Linked DNA regions of Homo sapiens: regions 1, 2 and 3 are each linked to region 4. The links come from fine-mapping of genetic effects on gene expression. A gene starts in region 4. Each other region holds a variant in brackets. All regions are shown on one strand. Distances are from middle to middle.

What was found.
Region 1: its variant is fine-mapped to the expression of MMP2-AS1 in left ventricle (GTEx, PIP 0.92).
Region 2: its variant is fine-mapped to the expression of MMP2-AS1 in whole blood (INTERVAL, PIP above 0.99).
Region 3: its variant is fine-mapped to the expression of MMP2-AS1 in whole blood (INTERVAL, PIP above 0.99). The same link has a PIP of 0.9 or more in atrial appendage.

The regions. Positions count from the first base shown.
Region 1 is chr16:55,416,280-55,420,279 of GRCh38, forward strand. No RefSeq gene overlaps it. Among named protein-coding and RNA genes, the nearest start is that of MMP2-AS1, 44 kb to the right of the region's middle. The variant A/G (reference allele first, on the strand shown) is at 1,997.
Region 2 is chr16:55,438,701-55,442,700 of GRCh38, forward strand. All of the region lies in intron 4 of MMP2-AS1 (MMP2 antisense RNA 1), which reads right to left. Among named protein-coding and RNA genes, the nearest start is that of MMP2-AS1, 22 kb to the right of the region's middle. The variant C/T (reference allele first, on the strand shown) is at 1,712.
Region 3 is chr16:55,423,880-55,432,206 of GRCh38, forward strand. It overlaps MMP2-AS1 (MMP2 antisense RNA 1), which reads right to left. Exons shown (of 7, transcript NR_147198.1): 5 at 5,482-5,601; 6 at 3,622-3,705; 7 at 2,918-3,091. Among named protein-coding and RNA genes, the nearest start is that of MMP2-AS1, 34 kb to the right of the region's middle. The variant A/G (reference allele first, on the strand shown) is at 3,968.
Region 4 is chr16:55,460,715-55,464,714 of GRCh38, forward strand. It overlaps MMP2-AS1 (MMP2 antisense RNA 1), which reads right to left and starts at 1,583. Exons shown (of 7, transcript NR_147198.1): 1 at 1,461-1,583.

The sequences.
Region 1 (4,000 bases), 44 kb before region 4:
CAGCACTCCAAGCAAGCCCCTTGCTCCTTGTCCCCTCCAAATTCAGTCTGATGTGATTCAGTGTGACACAAAGGAAAGTGAATCTATCTTCAGCAAATGTGGCCTTTAATGGTAGCAAAGTGCTTTGAAGATGAAAAGTTCTCTGCAAGTGCTAAGCATTATTATTCTGTATCAGATGTCAGTATGCACTTAAAAAAAGATTCAATTAAAGTGCCTTGCCATTGTTTTATGATACAAGCATCAGACATTTCCAAAAAGGTCAAGTCATGACAGGAATATTTAACTCCTAGAAGGAGTAGAAAGTAATTGGAGTGAGCTGGAGGATGATCCAGGACGGAACGATAGGGTGTTCACTTAGCAGTAGGATTTGTGGGCAAGGGTGACCACAAGAGAACAATGGAGTTAGCGTGCTTATTTAAAGCACCCAAGAGTGTAGACCCTTTGTGGGGGACTGGTTGAAAGGTGCAGAGGCCCCCGTGTCTGTGTATGAACAGGTGAGACTGAGACAACCCACTGTGGAAACAAAGAAGCATGGATGAAGGCAGACAGCCTCCCACTCCAACACACACACATATGCACATGCACACACACACACACACACACACATACCCTTGGTTGCTGATGTTTCATATGCACCAGTATCTCAGATAAAAGAGTCTAGAGCTGGGCTGGAAGATAGCAAGCTATCCAAGTCAGCCCCATCACCCTCATTTTATGTTTGTTATTGAACTTTTGTAGTCATTCGGTGCTGGACATGTCTACTACAAAAGAGGAAGAAGATGAGGAGGAAAAGGACAATATGGAGAAGGGAGAGAAGGCATGCTGGGTACTATCTGGTGGCTGGGATAGGGACAACAGGCAAATGTCCTGAGGTGTCATGTAAGTAATCCAGCCCTAGGCTTTCACCATTAGAGGGTGTCGGGGGAAAACTTGCAATTTCAGTCATGCTACTACTTAGACACACAAAGGAAACGTAGCTCTTGTATTTTCTGTAAGTGATCTTACCATCTACACATGCCTCTTGCCAGTGGCAGTGTGTGTTGGGTGATGGGTTCAGAAGTGGATATTTTAAGCTTGTTCATTAAAGATGACTCAGTTTCTTCAGTTGGAACCATCTCCTCCTAGTTAAAATTGTCCTTTGCAGTCCTTGTGTTTATGACAGTGAGAGAGGAGACCTCTCATCCACACTGTGCCTTCTAACTGCTCCCTGGAGCCTGCTGGAGAGTGGTTGCTCCACTTTGCTCCCAAGGTTTACCCTACCTGGATATTCCAGGTGATGCTCTTGCTCACATGGAGACTGTGGCCTTGGCATGTGTTCCCTAGGTGGGCAGTCAGAACACCTGTGGCACGTTGCCTGCTTCCCCTACAAATTTGTGTCTTTCATTTTCTTCTCCCCTGCTGCCAGGCCAGGAAGTGTCTTCCCACCTCCTCTTCTCATCTGGCTTGGGCTTCTCCTACCCCATATCATATTCCTTCTCAAGGTGGCATTCACCCTTCATTCACCCTTCATTGGAGCAATAATGGTGGAATGACTGTAGGGAACATGATTTATAGAATGAAAACCACAAGTATTTAATATCTTTAAAATATTTTCTCCATTACAAGAGGTGCATTCCTTTAGCCTAAGGTTTATTTTGTCTCATAAAATGCAGATATGCTTAGGAGATGTAAAGCAAAAGGTGTTCTTTCTAAAACACCGTTGGATGATTTAAGTTGGTTGGTGGCTGCATCAACCCTAAGACTGCACAACCCAGGCCCATTCATTCATTCCCTAACCATTCATAAACAATCATTCATTGCATTCACCTATATGCCAGCATGGTCCTAGGCACCAGAGATCATAAACTACTGAGAGGGAGAGAAAATGATAAGAATAAGTAATTAACGACTGCTGTGAAAAGTGCCGCACTGGAAAAGCCAGGATGCTCTGAGAATGAATGACACAACTAAAGGGATCAGGGAAGCTACCTGATCAGGTGACAAGTGGCAGGCAAAG[A/G]CAAAAAGGAGTTAACTGAGAGAAGAGCTATGGAGGTGCAGTGTGCTGGAGAGAAGAGGTTTCACAGCCAACAGGGCAGCATGTGCACTGGCCTTGAAGTAGAAAGGAGCTCCGAGGGTCCTTTTCAAGGTGACCTCTAAAAGGGAATGGAGGGAGGATCCTGGAGGAGAGAGGAAGGGAAGGGCACAGGGAAAGAAGGAGTTGAACCAGGCCAGGGCGATGGCAATCAAAAGTCACCTTGAGAAATTGATGAGTAAAATCACGAGCCACTTTTGCAAAGCTCATTGTAGAAACCCCACAGATATTTAAGCCTCATGCTCACCATTTCCAAATAGAATTTTTATCTCATGCTGCTTCCACCAATTCCACTTGTTTTCCATGTTCTCTCCTGACTTTCTGGAGGAGGACTGGCTTGAAGGAACCCTCACCTCTGCAGGGATCTAGCGCCTGCTGTGTGAACCAGTTGCAGGGCGAGATGCAGGACAGGGAACTAGCCATGGTCCTTACCTTCCAGGAGCCCTGTTCTGGCAGATCACAGCAATGGGAACTGTCAAGGCTTCAACCCTCCTGCCAATATCCTGGTCACCCTTCTTCTGGGGACACAAATCCCAAACTTCAGAGGCTTTTTTGTGCTCCTTCTTCCTTAATCCCCATGGCTAATCTGCTACCAAGTTCTCCAAGCCTACCTGCAAAATATTCTAGGGTTTATCTACTTCTCTTCAGCCTCCTTGTTTCAACTCTTATCAAAGTAACTCTTCAACTTGTAATTCAAAGTAATTCTTCAACTTGGTAACTGTAATCACTTCTTCACTGGTGACCTCAAATTCACTCCGATTCCCCCTTCATGAGGGCAGCCAGAGTGATTTCTTCCAATAGCAAATGTGATTATGCCATTCTCTACTCACTTCTGAGATTTCCTTGCTCTTAGGAGAAGGAAAAGATGGTCTTGGCCCCAGCCCACAAGGCATTCGTTGTAAGATCCAGCCATTCATTGTGAGATCCAGCCATTCATTGCCCACCACTCCAGCCCTCATGCTCCCACCAGGCTTGGCCTCGCTCTCCACCTTCTCACCACACTGGCCTTTGCAGAGCTCCTTGAAGGGGCTGAGCTCCCACCTGCCTAACACCCAGACCTGCACTCCACCGTCCCTTCCTCAGGGCAAAGTCCCAGAATGCCAGACCACATCAGTTCTCCCTATCATCCCCCCATCATCCTTCCAAGGAGTGGTCTTATTTTTATGTGTTTATTTGATTAACGGCTAACTAATCCTACTTGATTTAGAGCTCTTTGAGAGCAAAGGTGATTCTCATCTCTGTGCATGTCTATGGCACAGGGATGAGAACACTGTCTGGCACAGAGTGGCTGCTGCAATGAATATAAGTTGAATAAAAGAACAAATGACTGCAATGGAAATGAGTGAAGAATCTGTCCACCTTCCCAGCTTTCTTGTACAGGAAGACTTTACAATGACCTGAAAGGCCCGACATGGTATACACCCCTTCCCCAAGTCCCCCTTTCTCTGGCGTCTGATCGACTTCTCTCTCTAGCACACTTGACTCTGGCTTCACTGGTGTTCTCGCTCTTCTGCAGCAGGCCAAATATGTTCCAGCCTCAGGGCCCTTGCACTTGCTGCTTCTGGTGCCAGGAATTCTCTTCTTCCAAATATCCATCCACATGACTGACTCTCTCCCCTCCTTCAGGACTCTGTTCATATCATTCTTCCCAGTGAGGTCTTCTCTGATCTCCCTACATAAATCCATCATTTTCAAAACCCCTACCCGATTTATTTTTCCTGATAGTCCTTATCACCTTGGGCATATTACCTTATTTATATGTGTATCATCTATCTCCCTCCACCACCATGAGAATATGAGCTCCTTAAATGCAAGAATTTTGCTTGTTTTATACTCTGCTGCATCCTCAATCCTCATTACAGTTCCTGGCATAGTAAACCCTCAATATATGTCAGTGGACAGGTGAATTAATAAATGAATCTTGAGCCT
Region 2 (4,000 bases), 22 kb before region 4:
AAATAACAGTTATCTAAATAATTATTTAAATTAATATAGTAATATGTGGGCTTTTATTAACCAAGATATAATAAGATATAGAGGTGGGTCTACTCATCACTATAATTTCCAGAGAGTAGTGAGTCTGTTTCAAGATACTCTGTAGCAACTATAATGTGATATGAAAATATCTGTGATATCTATTAATGACGAAGTCACAAAAGTCCCATGTAGTGCTGATACAATTTTAGTTGTTGCCTACATTCAGAATTGAAGGAAATGCTAACTGTCAGTTAGAAGTTAGCAAAAATTTAAAAATACATTTTTTTTTCCCATTCAAGCTAAGAATTCCATGGAATTCTTAGAAGTCTTCCATTTCATGGAACCCAGGTTAAGAATCTTCACCCCATGAAAGGAATATTTTTATTCTTCATAAGTTTATTTCATTCTTGGTCCAGAGGTGAGGCAAAGATCAGCTCCTCTCAGCTTCTACTTGGCCCCAGAAACCAACTCTTTGGCATAGACAGTAAGGCTGGGTTTTGGACACGAAACATTTTTCATTAACCCCCACCCACCCCGCCCAGGTATTATGTTTGAAAAGCAGTCTGTGACAGGGAGTGGTTAAAACAGAAGACAAGTTTGTTTCACTCCAAAATCTCTTCCATTTGGTCTCATGGTTCATTAGTATTTGTTGTGCAACACCAAAAAAAAAAAAAAATGCACTCAGATGTAAATGCAGGGACGGCCCAAAACACAGGAGACACTCCACGTGTCTAGACAGCAATGTTCTAACCAACAGAGGAGACACACTGCGCTGTTCATAGTAGTTGCTTAATTTTTCTCATCTGCAAACAGGCTATGGATTGCCAACCTTTAATTAAGAAACAGTTTTCTTTTCAAAAAGAATGTGTTCTAATAAATACCAGCTGAGCTGGGATGGAGGCGCTATAGAAATTACAACTGCAGCTGAAAAACCATGAGACTTGCAGCAGGCTAACCATGAAGACCTTCAGGAAAGGAATAGTTTCCATGTGCTTTGGAGATGAGGACATGCCTCGTGGGCTATGCTCCTTGGCTTCAAAGCCAAGCCACAGCGCCGGTGCTGTGGGTTCTGCCTTCTTGGGCAGAGAGAGGACAGAAAGAGGCAGAAAGACAGTGAGGCAGGGTATTGGCTTAAATGACCTCTGCCTTGACATTCTATGACTTTAAAATCAAAGAGGTACTCAGGGTAAGGTTAGAAGTGTTCTTACTACAGCTGATATCATTGACTTTGCAAAAGGGAGTTCCTAGCAAAGAAAATGTTTCTTCAGATTGAAGTGTCTTGGTATTTGAAATGTCTTAGCATCCCTGTGACCCTCCCTCCACACGTAGTGTTGCCAGATAAAATGCAAGATGTCCAGTTAAATTTGAACATCAGATTAAAAATGAATAATTTTCAGTGTACATATATCCCGTGCAATAAGCTAAAAATATACAAAAGCATTATTTGTTGTTTATCTGAAATTCAAACTTAACTGTGTGTCCTGTATTTTTACTTACTAAATCGGCCAACTCTACTCCCACTCAAACCAGATCTTTCCTCCGATCCACTTTCCTCCAGTTCTTTGTAGAGAAATGCCAGGCCAGCCTGGCACAGACTGAGGTCAACTTAGAGACATGTGTACAGTCAGCATAATGGTTAAGAACACCAACTTTGGAGTCTCAAAGACTTAAAGTAGCCTTCAACTCAAGC[C/T]TGTCGCTTTTTGATGGGTTTATCTTGAGAAGCTTTCATGACCTCCCAGGGCCTCAGCTTTGTCCTTTGCAGAATGGGGAGATTGAAAGTCACGGCTGATGTTCAGCCATATCCAATAGTACAAAATCCATACCAGCAGTTTAAAAATTAGAGCATTTCCCAGGCCAGTTGTCAAATAGCTTCCCAATCTCCCCTTCATTGTGCCAGGCACCCTGGCTCCTCCCCACCTCTTTCCTCATCTAGCAACAAATACCTGGCACAGTCAGGGGTCTCCAGGACCCTGTTCTAGTGTTTAACTCAGTGTTCTTTCTGATTGGCAAGTATCTGTGGCTTATTGATAGTTAAATAAATTGACAACCACTCCTGTTAGGAATACCCACCTCAAAGGTTGTTGTAAGGGGTAGGTGAAATGATGTGAAAGAACTGTGATATAGGGTTTGGCCCAGAGATCTCTCTCTCACACACACACACACACAGAATGAATGAATGAATGAATGAATCCCTGTGCTACTTATAAGGAAGAGCCTTGCCTTTTTTTGCACATGGCAAACCATTCTCTCTCTCTCTCTCTCTCTCTTTAATAAACCTTAAAGATCATTCTACTTCTAGTTTAATTTCTTCCTCTTTACATGGAGGAAAACTGAGATTAGGCATAATTTACTGACTTATCTAAACAAGTCCACTTTTATGCATTGTAGGTTTGAGGGATCGTTGGAAAGATCTTTTGCTCAAAAACATTCCTTTCATCCAACTGCCACAAAGCCTGAAATTTCACCATTAGCATTTTAGCCATCTTTAAAAATTGCACTAACACTTATCAAGATATTTCTCAAAGCCCACTCTCTTTAAGCTAGAAATGACCCAGGGTCATCCTGAGAACCTCAAGCGCTGGGCTGGAGGGTGGTAAAAAAGAGATTCTGAAAGAAGTTGAAAGGAGACCTGGGACGTGCCAAAGACACATGCGTCCAACTTTAAAACTGTGTGACTGGCTGGCTATGCATTAGATTGTCCCACTGGGGCAGTTGTGCATTTGTGCTGTTGCATAATACAGAAGGACAAAAAGCATAAATACTAACTGATCACTTCATTCAAAAGAACTTCCCAAAAGGAAGCCAGACCCCTTTGATGCTGCCTTATGCTTAGGCAAAGCTAAAAGTCGTTTTTATACTGTTGGTCAAGGGTTTTTCAACTGGATGCCTGGAAATGTTTTTCACAGATCTACAAAGCATGGATCATACAACAAAGCCTCAAAATATACAGGGGCAAAAATCTAGCTGGGATTGTATCCATTCATATATACAAGTTGGTTCCACCACTGGGTTAATGCTAACTGCTGGAGTCCAGCATCTCTTGTATTAGATATATCTTTATCCGCTGACAGTTGAATTCGATCCACCTGCACATTATTTTGAGGACAGGTGTTGAGAGCTAACCAGTTGCTGGTATAGGCTAGTCTGTTTCCCCCAGAACACAATATTGTCCTGTGCTGTGTAATGGTGTTTCGGTCAATGACAGGCTGCATATATGACAGTGGTCCCATAAGATTATAACGGAGATGAAAAATTCATATCACCTAGTGACACGGTAGCCATTGTAATACTGTAGTGCAATTACTTTATTTTTTATAAATTTAGCATGGCCTAAGTCTACAGTGTTTATAAAGTCTCTAGTGGTATACAGTAATGTCCTGGGCCTTCACCTTCACTCACCACTCACTCACTGACTCACACAGAACAAATTCCAGTGCTGCAAGCTCCATTCACAGTAAGTGCCCTATACAGGTGTACCATTCTCTACTTTTTATACCATAATTTTACTGGACCTTTTCTATATTTACATATGTAAATGCTTACCACGGTGTTACAATTACCTACAGTATTCAGTGTGATACATGCTATACCGGTTTGTAGCCTAGGAGCAAAAGGCTATTCCATATAGCTTATACCATCTAGGTGTGTGTAAGTACACTGTATGAGGTTGGCACAATGATGAAATAGCCTCTCAGAACACATCCCCATCCGTCACCAACACATGACTGTAAAATTCAACATCCAATCATTTGACTGATTTAGTTTAGAAGATCAGAATCTAAAGAAATTTTTTTTAAACTTCTGGAAAAACAGGGGTTAAAATTCTGGCACTTTTCTTCAAACATCAATATTTGTGACTTATTAATTACCAATGGATGATCACCAAACGAGGAAGGATCTTCCCATCAGAGTCTAATTAGTTTCATTGTCTTTTTTTTTTTCTGGATTCCATTGTATTTCACTCTACCCTTCGGCTGCC
Region 3 (8,327 bases), 35 kb before region 4:
GAATCCCTGATTGCCACCACTCCCTCCCCTACCACACAGTCACTCCATTGGCAAAACCTGTGGGCTCTGCTTGCAAAATAGATTCCATATCTGACCACTTTTCACCACTAATTGCAGAAGAATCTGGTGTAAGTGCCCATCAGTTCTCGCCTGGACTATTGCTGGAGCACCCTAACTGGTCTCCCTGCCTTCCTCCGTTTTCCCCTATTATCCTTCTGTACTCAGAAGTCAAAAGGATCCTTTTATCCATGATTGTGTTATTGCCTGTTTGAAAGCTGCCCTTGCTCCCCTCTTGGTTGGCACCAACCCGCAGTCCTGGGCTTGGCCTGCAGGTCCTGCCAACTCAGCTCCTGCTTCATTCTCTGATGCCATCTTCTATCACACTCTTCCTTGTTTACCCTGCTCCACCTGCGCTGGCTAATCTTCAAAAGTGCCAAGCACACCCCCACCCTGAGGCCTGTGCAGGGGCTGCTCCCCTACCTGGCCTGAGCCTCCCTGACATCCCCATGGCCCCTTTCTCACTGCAGCTTTCTCAGTTCCCCCAAGGGGAAGACCACCAGCCACTCCCACTCTCTTGCCCACGTCATTATTTTTCAGAATGCTGGTTTCCTAAGGAATCCCCCAGTCACTGCCCTTCCTTCTGTACCCTAGGTCTTTAAGGAGACCAAAATAAGACAAGGAATGAGGACAGGACAGAGCTGCTCACATTCAGTTTATTCCTCCTAGAATCCTTATCAATCAGCCAAGTCACCTCCCTTGGGGCAGAGCAAGGTAAGGGGAATAGAGACATGGAGATCCTCCGGATGCCCCTGTGCATGGAGGAGGGGTCAGGAGTGGTGAAATCCTCAATGCTTCTCACACCTGTCATCATATTATGATAATCTATTGCATGGATGCATCCCTCAGGTCCCTTTTACTTATTCTGTGTGCTCACCCCCAGCCTCTACACACATTTTCCCCTACTCCTCCTTCTCTTTCTCCTTCTCCTTCTCCTTTTTTGGGACAGAGTTTCTCTCTTGTTGCCCAGGCTGGAGTGCAGTGGAATGATCTCAGTTCGCTACAACCTCTGCCTTCCGGGTTCAAGTTATTCTCCTGCCTCAGCCTCCCAAGTAGCTGGGATTATAGGCATGCACCACAACACCTGGTTAATTTTTATATTTTTAGTAGAGATGGAGTTTCACTATGTTGGCCAGGCTGGTCTTGAATTCCTGACCTCAGGTGATCCACCACCCTCGGCCTCCCAAAATGCTGGGTTACAGCCGTGAGCCACCACACCTGGCCCTACGTATTTTACTTCTAAAAGGTTCACACCTGGAACTTCCTTCCTGTGCTGGCCCATGAACCTCTGCAGCTGCTTTGTCCCCATGGCATGCAGAGAGGAGAAAAAGTACCCAAAATTTACTCCCCCTCACCCCTCCAGCCTGTAGCCAATGGATGTGGGAGTATAAAAGCCTGACACCCCTGCTTCAAAGACAGACAGACCCTGAGATGTAATTTATACCCCAGAGCTCTCCACAGGATCAGGCAGAGGTTGGGACTTTGGGAAGCTGCACCTTTGCTGGGCTTCTTCCCCCTCTCTTGCCCTGTTTCCCTATGCCCTTATGGATATCTCCTGGGAGCTCTTTCTTAATAAATTACCTGCACTTCAACCCTTGTCTCAGCATCTTCTTCTGGGAACATAAGACTGAAGGCACTCGCTGTTTGTTGTTTATTTCATTTCCTTACTAGAACATAAGCTCCCAAGGGCAGGAGCTTTTCTGTTTTGTTCAGTTTTGTATTTTCAGCAACAAGAACAGTGCCTCGTATACAGAAGGAGCTCAATAAATACGTATTAAGTGGATGCGTGAATTTGTGAATATATGTCAATTGACAGAAATATACCAGGACCACTTCTAAAGAAGGCTTCCCCTGTTCTGTTTTATGGTCTGCTATGTCCCTCATGACTGAAATCATTCGCAGCACAAAGTAGATGTTCAATGAATATCTATTGATCAACTCCCATAGCCCCTGTCTGCTCTATTTTAGCAACTGTTCTAGGAAAACTGCTAATATATCTGGCCTCTGCCTGGCTTCTCTCCACCTCCCTCTCAGGCCTTTGCACAGAGCAGGTCCTCAGCCTGAGAGGACTGCATTACAGTTTCAGGGCCTACTGGGTGGAGGGACTGCTAGGGCTTAAGGAACAGGAGCAATAGACCCTACTAAGATGGGTGAGGCCTCTGGAAGGCTGTGACAGCCTAAGCTGTTAGGGAGAAGCTTCTGGGCACAACTGGGTCATTGGAAGCCACTAGGAGAATTTGAGGTCGCCTGGGTGGGACAGGGAGGGGTAAACTTCTGGGACAACATTAGATCCAGAGAATGGGGAGCCTCTGGAGGAGGGCAGAACAGAGGGGGAAAGGCAATGCTACTAGTGAGTGTTAGGGCCCACTGGGCAGGGGGATGTTTGCAGGGGAATAGTTGGGCATCCTGGTAAGCAGAAGCCCATGGGGACTGATGGGCCAATGGGGAGGGGAAAATTATAGGGAAATCTTGGGGCTTTGTTTACAGTGGAGGCTTCTGAGGGAAGTGCTAAGTTTCAAAGGTATTAAGGTCAGAAAATGTCAGAAAGTAATAAGGGAAAAGAGGAAATTAAACCAAGTCTGCTCTCTCTCTCTCTCTCTCTCTCTCTCTCTCTCTCTCTCTCCCCCTCTGTCTCTGTCTCTCTTTCTCTCTCTATTGTTCTCCCTCTTACCTTTCTCTGATATTTTTTCCTCTTTGGTGTTGACAAATCACTGTCAGTAAGTGACATTCTCCCTTAAGAAACCTATCTGACACAGAGCACAAGGCGTGATGGTTGTTCATGGATCAGCCAGATTGAATTAAGGTTCAATTTCAGGTTAGAATCAGCTGGAAGAGATGAGACCCCCAAAATAGCAGTGGCTTCAGCAAAACAGAGCTTTATTTCTCCCTGGCGGGATCTTCAGGCTGGTGGCCCAGGTTTGGAGCAGCAATCCTCAGGTGCAGGGACCCTGTGCCTTCTGCCTTGCCACTCAGCATCATCACTGCATTTCTCAAGGTGGCTGCTGGGGTGCCAGCCTTTATGGGCAGTTCCAGCCTGCAGGAAGGAGGAAAGTGGAAAGAAAGGTGCATCCGCCTAGTAAGGGTGCTCTCCAGAAGTTGCACACACCACTTCCACATATGCCCATTGACTAGAATACGGTTAAGTCACATGATCACATTTAACTGCCAAAAAACCTGGGGCAATGTAGTGTTTATTCCAGGCAGCCAAGGATCCACTTAAAAGCTAAGGGTGTTTCTTATGAAGGAAGAACTGAAAATACATATTAAGGGACAACAAGCACATAGATTGAGGGAGCCAACCAGGAACATCAGGAGCCTCAGAGAGTCCCTCGAGAGACGAGCTCACATGGTGTGCTGGTATTTATTGCTACATAACAGCTTACCCCTAAATTTGGCAGCCTGAAACAGCAAACATGTTATCTCGTGCAATTTCTGAGGTCAGGGGTCTAGAAGCAGCAGAGCTGGGTGGTGCTTGCTCTCTAGAAAGGCTGCAGTCAAGCTGTCTGCTGAAGCTGAAGTCATCTTAAGCTCAATTGGGGCTAGAAAATCCACTTCCAAACTGACCTCACAGGGTTGTTGCTGGAGGCTTCAGTTCGTTGTCTTGTGGGCCTCTCCATTGGGCTGCTCACAACATAGTAGTTTGCTTTCCTCAGAGCAAGAGATCCAAGGAAGAGAAGAAGGAAAAGAGGAGAGAGAGAGAGAGAGAGAGAGAGAGAGAGAGAGAGAGAGAGAAAGTCATCTAAAATGGAAGCCACAGTCTTTTCTAACCCTTCTGAGAAGAGACACGTCCTCTCATCTGCTGTTTTCTTTTTGGCCACAGAGCCCAATCCTGGCACAATGTGGAGGAGGATATGAATCCCAGGAGGCAGGGATGACTGCAGGCATCTTGGAGGCTGACTACCAACCATGG[A/G]TAGGTAAATGAGTGCCAGGAGTTAGGAGATCACACCTCGGTAGAGAGAGTTCCTTGAGCCAGGAAGACTATGCACAGGCTCAGGAAGGCTGGCTGGGCCTAAACAGAAGTGGGTCAAAGGTTAAGGAGTATGTCTCAGTCTATTTGGGCTGCCATAGCAAAATGCCATAGACTGGGTAACTCATAAATAGCAGAAACTGATTCCTCACAGTTCTGGAGGCTGGGAAGTCCAAGATCAAGTTACTGGCAGATTGGGTGTCTGGTGGGGGTCCATTCCTCATAGATGGCATCTTCTTGCTGAGTACTCAACATGACAGAAGGGGTGAACAAGCTCCCTGAGGTCTCTTTTATATGGGTACTAATCCCATCCATAAAGGCTCTGCCTTCAAGACCTCGTCACCTCCCAAAGGCCTCACCTCCTCATTTCATCACACTGGGGATGAGGTTTCAACCACTAATTTTTGGTGGGAGGAGACAAATATTTAGACCTTAGCAAAGTACAACAAAATGTTCCTGTGGTTGCTTTCTGATATTCACCCAATCACCCTGAAGGGACAAACCTTTCTACCACTTCAAAGAGGGAGACAATCTTACTAGCATGTAATAATCAGCACTGTTACCCACAGCTCAAGCCCTCACCCTAGAAACAAAGCCAAGACCACTAAGTGGGTAGGTGTCCTGGCTAAGTGTGGACACAGGGCACAATCAGAGATGTGAACACACAAAGAGCTTCACCAGCTTCTCACAGACCCTGCTTGCCTTTCGAAGTGATGAATACACATGGCCTGGTCATTCCAGAGACTAATAAGACCCCTCTGGCCCATTACCTGAAACTGGGGACCCAATACCATGCAGATGGACTGAGTCATTACAAAGGCAATTAAATGCCCAACTCCATAGCCAGGTGCCAACATGTAGGCTTTTGTGCATGGATAACTTAGTTCTTTCAGGAGGGGAAGAATCTTTAGTCTTATTTTCTCTCAAGCCTGGGGTTAATTGGGAAGCCAGCTTCGGTGACTAGTACACAGAGGCTAATTTGTACAACCATTGCTCACAAGTGGGTGGGGGGGATGACGGCAAAAAAAAATAAAAATACAACATTGCTGGAGACAGTCTGCCATTGAATTGGATCTTAATATTCTAGTCCATGAACCAGCGGTTGCACTAGAGCTTGGTTAAAAAAAAAAAAAAAGCAGGAAAAACCCACACACATTCTTTCAATTTCTAAAGGGAAATTTGACTCGGGCTGTAGAACAAAGGACGAAGAAATAGAAGTAAAAGAAAATCAAAGAAAAAGTTATTTGGATTCAAGGGGATCAGATGTTTCATTTATTGCAGGTTGGAGACCTTCAATCAGCCAAATGAAAGGAACATTTGTATTAAAATACCTATGAGGCAGAGAGAAAGCCTTGATCGGGTGCAGCAGAGTTAAGTTACAGCAATCGTGCTGAGAGATATGAACCCACCTTCGAGGTTATCTGTTCCCAATATTGAAGGTTTTCTGTGTTACAAACCTGAGATGAAAGGTAGTTGTTTTGACGTCTGGGTCTGGAAGGCAGACGCTGAAATTAGCAGCATTCTTGATGTGTGTGCAGCAGGAACATGGAGCCCGGGATGGGGTGAAAATGTAGCTGCTTTATTAAAAGGAAACGATGTTAATGCAACACTAAGTGCCCAAGTCACCCATGAGGGTAGGGTGTAGATGGGGATTACAAAAACACCTTCTGAGAAGGGGCAGAGAAGGAGCACTGCACTAGGGGTCTGGGACCAAAGGTATAGCCCCTCCTCTGACCCTGGGTTGGTAGCTCCAAAATAGCTGGGACTTAGCCTGTCTAGTTCACAGTGCCAGGCATATAGGAGGTGTTTGATATATGTCAAACAAATGCATGAATGAATAAATGAATATGAACTTGGGCCTCTTTGGACCTAAGTCTTACAAAATAAGGAGCTGGGACTAACTATGGATTTCTCCAGTGGGATGAATACCACTGATGGTTGGGCAGCACATGGATGGGTTTGGGTGACATGCAAAGACATGGTATTAAACAGTACTAACTCAGAGAGAGAAAGGTATCACTTCTGGACTCTTTCTAGCCTCTGACTCCCTCTAAGAGAAAGTCTCAATCCAATGCTAACATCTCTTTAACACCTCTGCAATGTTTTCAACCCTCTCTTCATAATGATAAGAGGGGAAGGCCCAGGCTCACATCCTCAGCAGGCATCAGCATCCAACTCCATTTCATAACTTGATTTATTTCCTTTGTACTTAATTTCACAGTTGCCTTTCTATGTATGGCAAGTGATAGTTTTTCCTTGGCAGAACTGATCTTTTTAGGGTTTCTTTGTCAGACAGATGTTTCTAAGTAAGCACGAATTGATGTAAAGCCACCATTAAGGAAATAACAGCTCAAGTGGGATGCAGACAAGGAAAATATCATGATGATGAGAGATGGTTTGGAAAAAAAAAAAAAGAAATTGTCCCAGCTGACCTTGAAGGTCTCTTCTGGAAACACTGAGCATCTGAAGTCTAGGACTCCACTCTTCTGGTTTATGTAGAGCAAATCCAGCAGTCTCTAGCAAAGAGGTGACTGCAATCCGAACCTTTGGAAGATGGGCCTATTCATGTATCCATTTATTCATTCTCTCAATAAGTATTTATCAAGAGCATATTATATGTGCACTGCTGTTCCAGGCACTGGGATAGTAGTGAAAGAAAAATAGGGAAAAAGTCTCTGCCCTCATGGAGTTTCTGTTTTAGTGGTTTGAGGCAAGACAGGGACCAGGGCAGGTAAATGAGGCACTGAGGGTGTGTAATGTAAGGAGGCACCTGGTCTCAGGACTGCGCATGACCTTGACCTGACTTGAGACGAGTTTCCCATCCTGACCGTAACCTGGCATAGTTGTCATCATTCTGGGGGCCACAAATCCTGTCCCTGGAGGGTCTGGTGTAATTGCTCTTTGGTGGGTCCCCAGACTAGTATCTGGGGAGAGCAACAAAGATTATTCCCATCCACTTCCAGGATTGAGAACCACTGACATGGACCAAGAAACCTTCAAATTTTTTGATTTGGCACTTTTCAAAGGCATCAACCTTCTTAGTCACTAAGTCGATCTTCACTTACCAAATAAATTAACTAATGAGTGAGTTGGTATGTTGTCACTCACCATAATGACAAAAATACTCCTGTCCTCTGCCTCCTTACCAGGTGTCAGGTAATATCATTCACTTTTTTTTTTTTAAATGAAGTCTCGTTCTGTCTCCCATGCTGGAGAACAGTGGCCAGATCTCGGCTCAATGCAACCTCCGCCTCCCAGGTTCAAGTGATGCTCATGTCTCAGCCTTCCAATAGCTGGGATTACAGGTGCGCACCACCACGCCTGGCTAATTTTTGTATTTTTAATAGAGATGGGGTTTCGCCATGTTGGCCAGGCTGGTCTCAAACTCCTGACCTCAAGTGATCCACCTGCCTCAGCCTCCCAAAGTGCTGGGATTATAGGCATGAGCCACTGTGCCCGGCTTCATTCACTCTTTACATTTCTTGTTTCATTCCATCTTCACAATCACCTACAAGATAGGTGTTATTATCATCATCACCCCCTTTTGAAGATGAGGACACTGAAGGAAAGAGAAGTTAAGGAGCTTAACCCCAGCCCAACAAAACTTGCTAACTTTACCCAAGCTAACTTAGCCAAAGAAAACCCAGAAGGGCCATGCTCCTAACCCCTGTGCCCTACTGCTTCTCTATGGGATGAGTCTCAATGCCTGGGGACTTGGTCACAGGAGTTACAGCAAAGAGAGTGCATGTGAAAATGAGTGAAGTAAGGAGTCCTTTGTACCTTAAAGATAGCACATAGGAATAATTGTCACTTCCACCAAAAAATGTGTTCCTTCTCATTCTTCTCCAAACATGAGTCTAATTCTAGGTTCATTTTGCTTCCATGTCTGTTAAAGCCACAGCCATACAACTGTGGTCCTCTATATAAGAAAAAAGCAACAGTGCAAGCATGGTATTACATAACAACACATCCCCTGGTATTGGGGAAGTCTTGGGGCATGGTGGGGAGTGTGGCTAATTGGGAAGAGGAGCCTGTCCAATGTCTCCAGATTTCCTGACTTATCAAAAGAAATAAGAAATTTAGATTTAGTTGAGCCAGGCGCTGTGGCTCACGTCTGTAATCCCAGCACTTTGGGAGGCCAAGGCGGGCAGATCACGAGGTCAGGAGATCAAGACCATCCTGGTTAACATGGTGAAACCCCATCTCCACAAAAATACAAAAAATTAGCCAGGTGTGGTGGCGGGCGCCTATAGTCCCAGCTACTCAGGAGGCTGAGGTAGGAGAATGGCATGAACCCGGGAGG
Region 4 (4,000 bases):
AGAGACCGCAGGGAGAAAGAGCTGAGTGCAGCCTGAGCCCGTGATTTTCAAGCCCCGCCGCTGGCCTCCTAGGGTTCTTGTAATCATACTCCGACTCCCTTCTCCTTAGTTAGTCTAAGGGGGCTTCTGTTTCTTGCTCCCAACTGCTGCCTCACTAAGATAGACTCATTTTCAGATCTCTCTACGGATTGTAGCCTTTCCTGCAATTCCTGCCTGGATGGCTGCTCCTCCAGGCCTGGACTGGATGGAAGGTTCCAAGCGAGAACCTGCAGCATTTCTGCTTCTGCGGCATCATCCACCTCTGAGAACCACTCCAGAGGACAAGCTGAGGAGCCTTCCAAGAGCTCCATGTGTCTGTAAATGCCTTCAAAACCTGGTCTCAGTGCATCCTTTTTGCACCCACAGCCAGATAGCTGACCACACAACATCAGGATAGAGTGGTCACCACCCATTTTCTGTCATGGGAAAGGAAATTGCCCGGGAAAGGCCTTGCCCAGTGCAGACATGGCAGGCAATGCTGAGAGCTACAAAATCCTTCTAGAAGCTGTTGTCTTTCAGTTATTAAGACTATAAGGGCTGGGCATGGTGGCTCACACCTGTAATCCCAGCACTTTGGGAGGCTGAGGTGGGTGGATCACAAGGTCAGGAGTTTGAGACCAGCCTGGCCAACATGGCAAAACCCTGTCTCTGCTAAAAATACAAAAAAAAAAAAAATGCGCATGCCTGTAATCCCAGTTACTTGGGAGACTGAGGCAGGAGAATCGCTTGAACCTGGGAGGTGGAGGTTGCAGTGAGCCGAGATCACGCCACTGCACTCCAGACTGGATGACAAAGCAAGACTCCATCACGGAAAAAAAAAAAAAAAAAAAGAAGGCAGGCTGCCTAGCTTAGCTTTGCCATGACTAATCTACTTACCAGCTAAGCAACATTTGTGCAAGCTATTTCACCTCTGTGTGCCTCAGTTTCTTCATCTATAAAATAGAGATAATCATTTTACACCCCTCAATAAATGTCTTTTGAATCAATTAATGAATACTTGTAAAACACCTGGCATATTGTAAGCCCTTGTTAAATGTAAACTTTAAATGTTAAATGGTTTCTTTCTTTCTTTCTTTCTTTCTTTCTTTCTTTCTTTCTTTCTTTCTTTCTTTTCCTGTTTCTGTTCTCTCTCTCTCTCTTTCCCTCTTTCTCTCTTTCTCTCTTGGAAGGTCTCACTCTGTTGCCCAGGCTGGAGAGCAGTAGTGCAATCATGGCTCACTGCCTACAACCCCACCGTAAGTCCCTCTGGGATTCCATGATAGAGGTACTTATTCCAATTAGGGTCAAGCTGGAGGAAGAGGCGGCTGTGGCCTAGCTGTCAATTCCTCAGGGCTGGTCATTGGGGAGGAAGGGCAGGAACCAGCTGAGTTCACTGAGAGTTGGAACAGGAGACGCAGAAAGGTACAGATTTGGAAACTGACCTGGGTATCACAGTTAGGGCTCCAGGGCACTCCAGCCTGCGGTGGGAGTTTGTAGGTGTCTAAGCTGTGGCTGGGAGGGCAGTGGAAGAAAGTCAAGCTGTGCCAATTTTCCTATTTGAAGAGAAAGGGAGCAGGGGAACCAGAGTTCTAGGTGACACCATCGGGAAGACAAGCTGTGTCCTCAGCCCGGCCTGGGGGGAGGACTGGGTTGCAACTTACAGGAAAGAGGATTGACTGGATTCTTAGAAAAACAAGAGCCAAGGCTTGTTGCTGTGCAGAGGGATTGGGGTCACCAGCTGGCTGTTGTTACCGTGACTGATTCCTGATGCTTCGGAATTCAAGGGCAGGAGGCACTTGGGGCACTGGCTGAACCTTGGCTCCCTGACCCCTCCTCAGTCCCCTTCCTGGGCTCCACAACATATAAGATGAACGTTCTGATTGTCTATTTCTCCTCCCTTCTCGTTTTACTCTTCATTTGGTGGAGTGTATGGTAGGGATAAAATCTTAGAGATGTTTATCTGAGCCATAGAGAGACCTTATTGGGGGTGCATGGGAAATACACAAGTAATCCCAAGCTCACCTTGCCTGGGTGCCTGCGGAGGGCAATTGTGCATTAGCGGTAGAGTGTGGTGGGGACCTGGGCCTGGGTGGGCAGGGGAGAGCTTCTGGACAGGGGCTGGTGGATTAAGGTCATGCCCATAGGTGGGAAGCCACCCACACAGAATCACAGCATCTCAGAAGGGCAGTGCCAGAAAAATCCCCAGGGACCTCATTTTCCTTGGAACACAACCCAATTCCTTGGCTTGGCCAACCAGGCCTAGCGCATCTGGGCCCAACTTCATCTGCCTTCATTCCTCCACTGCATCAGTAGGGTCATTTGGGTGTAGGCCACAGAAGTAAACTCTGGCAACATAAGCGAAGGGGGATTTGTTAGAATAGGATAAGGGAGCCAGGCAACTGGAGCAGACATCAAGGTGGGAACACCAGGCCTCAGGGTCCCGCAGTTGCTGTGCCTGGGCTGCCATTGTTCCATCTGTATCTATGTCACGCGAGGTCATATGAGTGGGCCGGGCACGGTGGCTCACGTCTGTCATCCCAGCACTTTCAGGTGGATCACCTGAGGTCAGGAGTTCGAGACCAGCCTGGCCAACATGGTGAAACCCTGTCTCTACCAAAAATATAAAAATTTGCCAAGCCTGGTGGTGGGCATCTGTAATCCCAGCTACTCAGGAGGCTGAGGCAAGCTAATTGCTTCAACCCAGGAGGCAGAGGTTGCAGTGAGTCGAGGTCATGCCATTGCACTCCAGCCTGGGTGACAAGAGTGAAACTCTGTCTCAAAAAAAAAAAAAAAAAAAAAAAACCATATGAGTGTCCCATTGGCTCAGCCTAGATTACAGCCCCACCCTGGCAGGGTAGTAGGAGGAAGGCTTAGAACTGTCTTGGCTTCTGAAGAGGGCAGGACAGTAACCCAATCCACCTTCCCAGAAACACTGTCCTCAGTGGGGAGGAGGGACAACTCCCAAGGAGATGGGGACACATGCTCGCCAACCAAACCCACAAAAGCTCATTGTGCCTGTCGCTCTGCTCCAGCCACAGTGGCCTTCTTCTGTTCTTCAAATACAAAAAAGCTTGTTCCCACCCCAGGGCCTTTGCACTTGCCATCTGCTCTACCTGGAACACTCTTCCCCTTGTTCTGCATGTGACTGCTTCATTTTCCTCCTTCAGGACTCACACCTAACAAGGGCCTCCAAGAGGCCCTCCCTGACGACCCATTCTCAAGTTGCCCTCATCAGATAATCTTGACCTCATCCCTCCCAGGTCTCCTAGCCATCTAAAATTACCTTGTGTATGAGTCTGTTTGCTCTGTATTGCCTGTCTCCCCACTGGAATGCAAACGCCACAAGAGCAATGACTGCGGTTAATTGCTGCTATATATCCAGCACTCAGCACAGGGCTTAATAAGCATTTACCAGGCAAATAAACATATAGAGACAGAGAGCCCCAGAGGGACGGTGCTTTGGCCGAGGATGCCCAGAGAAAATACTGATGTCATTGAGGGTGCAGAAGCCAAATCTTGCTTGCTCCGGGGGCACTGGATGGCACCAGCCTAAGAGTGTGGGCACCAGAGCAGATTGCCTGGGTCAACACTCACTCTCTGTGTAACCTTGAGTGAGTTTCTTAACTTCTCTGTGCCTTGGTATCCTCATGCATAAAGAGATGACCATAATAATAATGCATTCTCAGGGGCTGTGGCAAGGATCACATGAACTAATACATGTAAAGTACTTAGAACAGGGCCTAACAATATTGTAACACTGTCAACAAGTGCAAGCTATTATGATTGGAAGACTTCCATGTCCTTATTTCTGATTGACAGGTCACTGCCCAGCCCCACCCTCGACCCAACCAGGATGAAGAATGGGCAAGCCAGATAGCTACAGTAATCGACAGACAGACAAACAAGAGCATCGTATGACCCAGGGGCCAACAAGTCCCACCCCAGTGACACCATCTCACTTTTGCAGAGCTCTTGCTCGCAA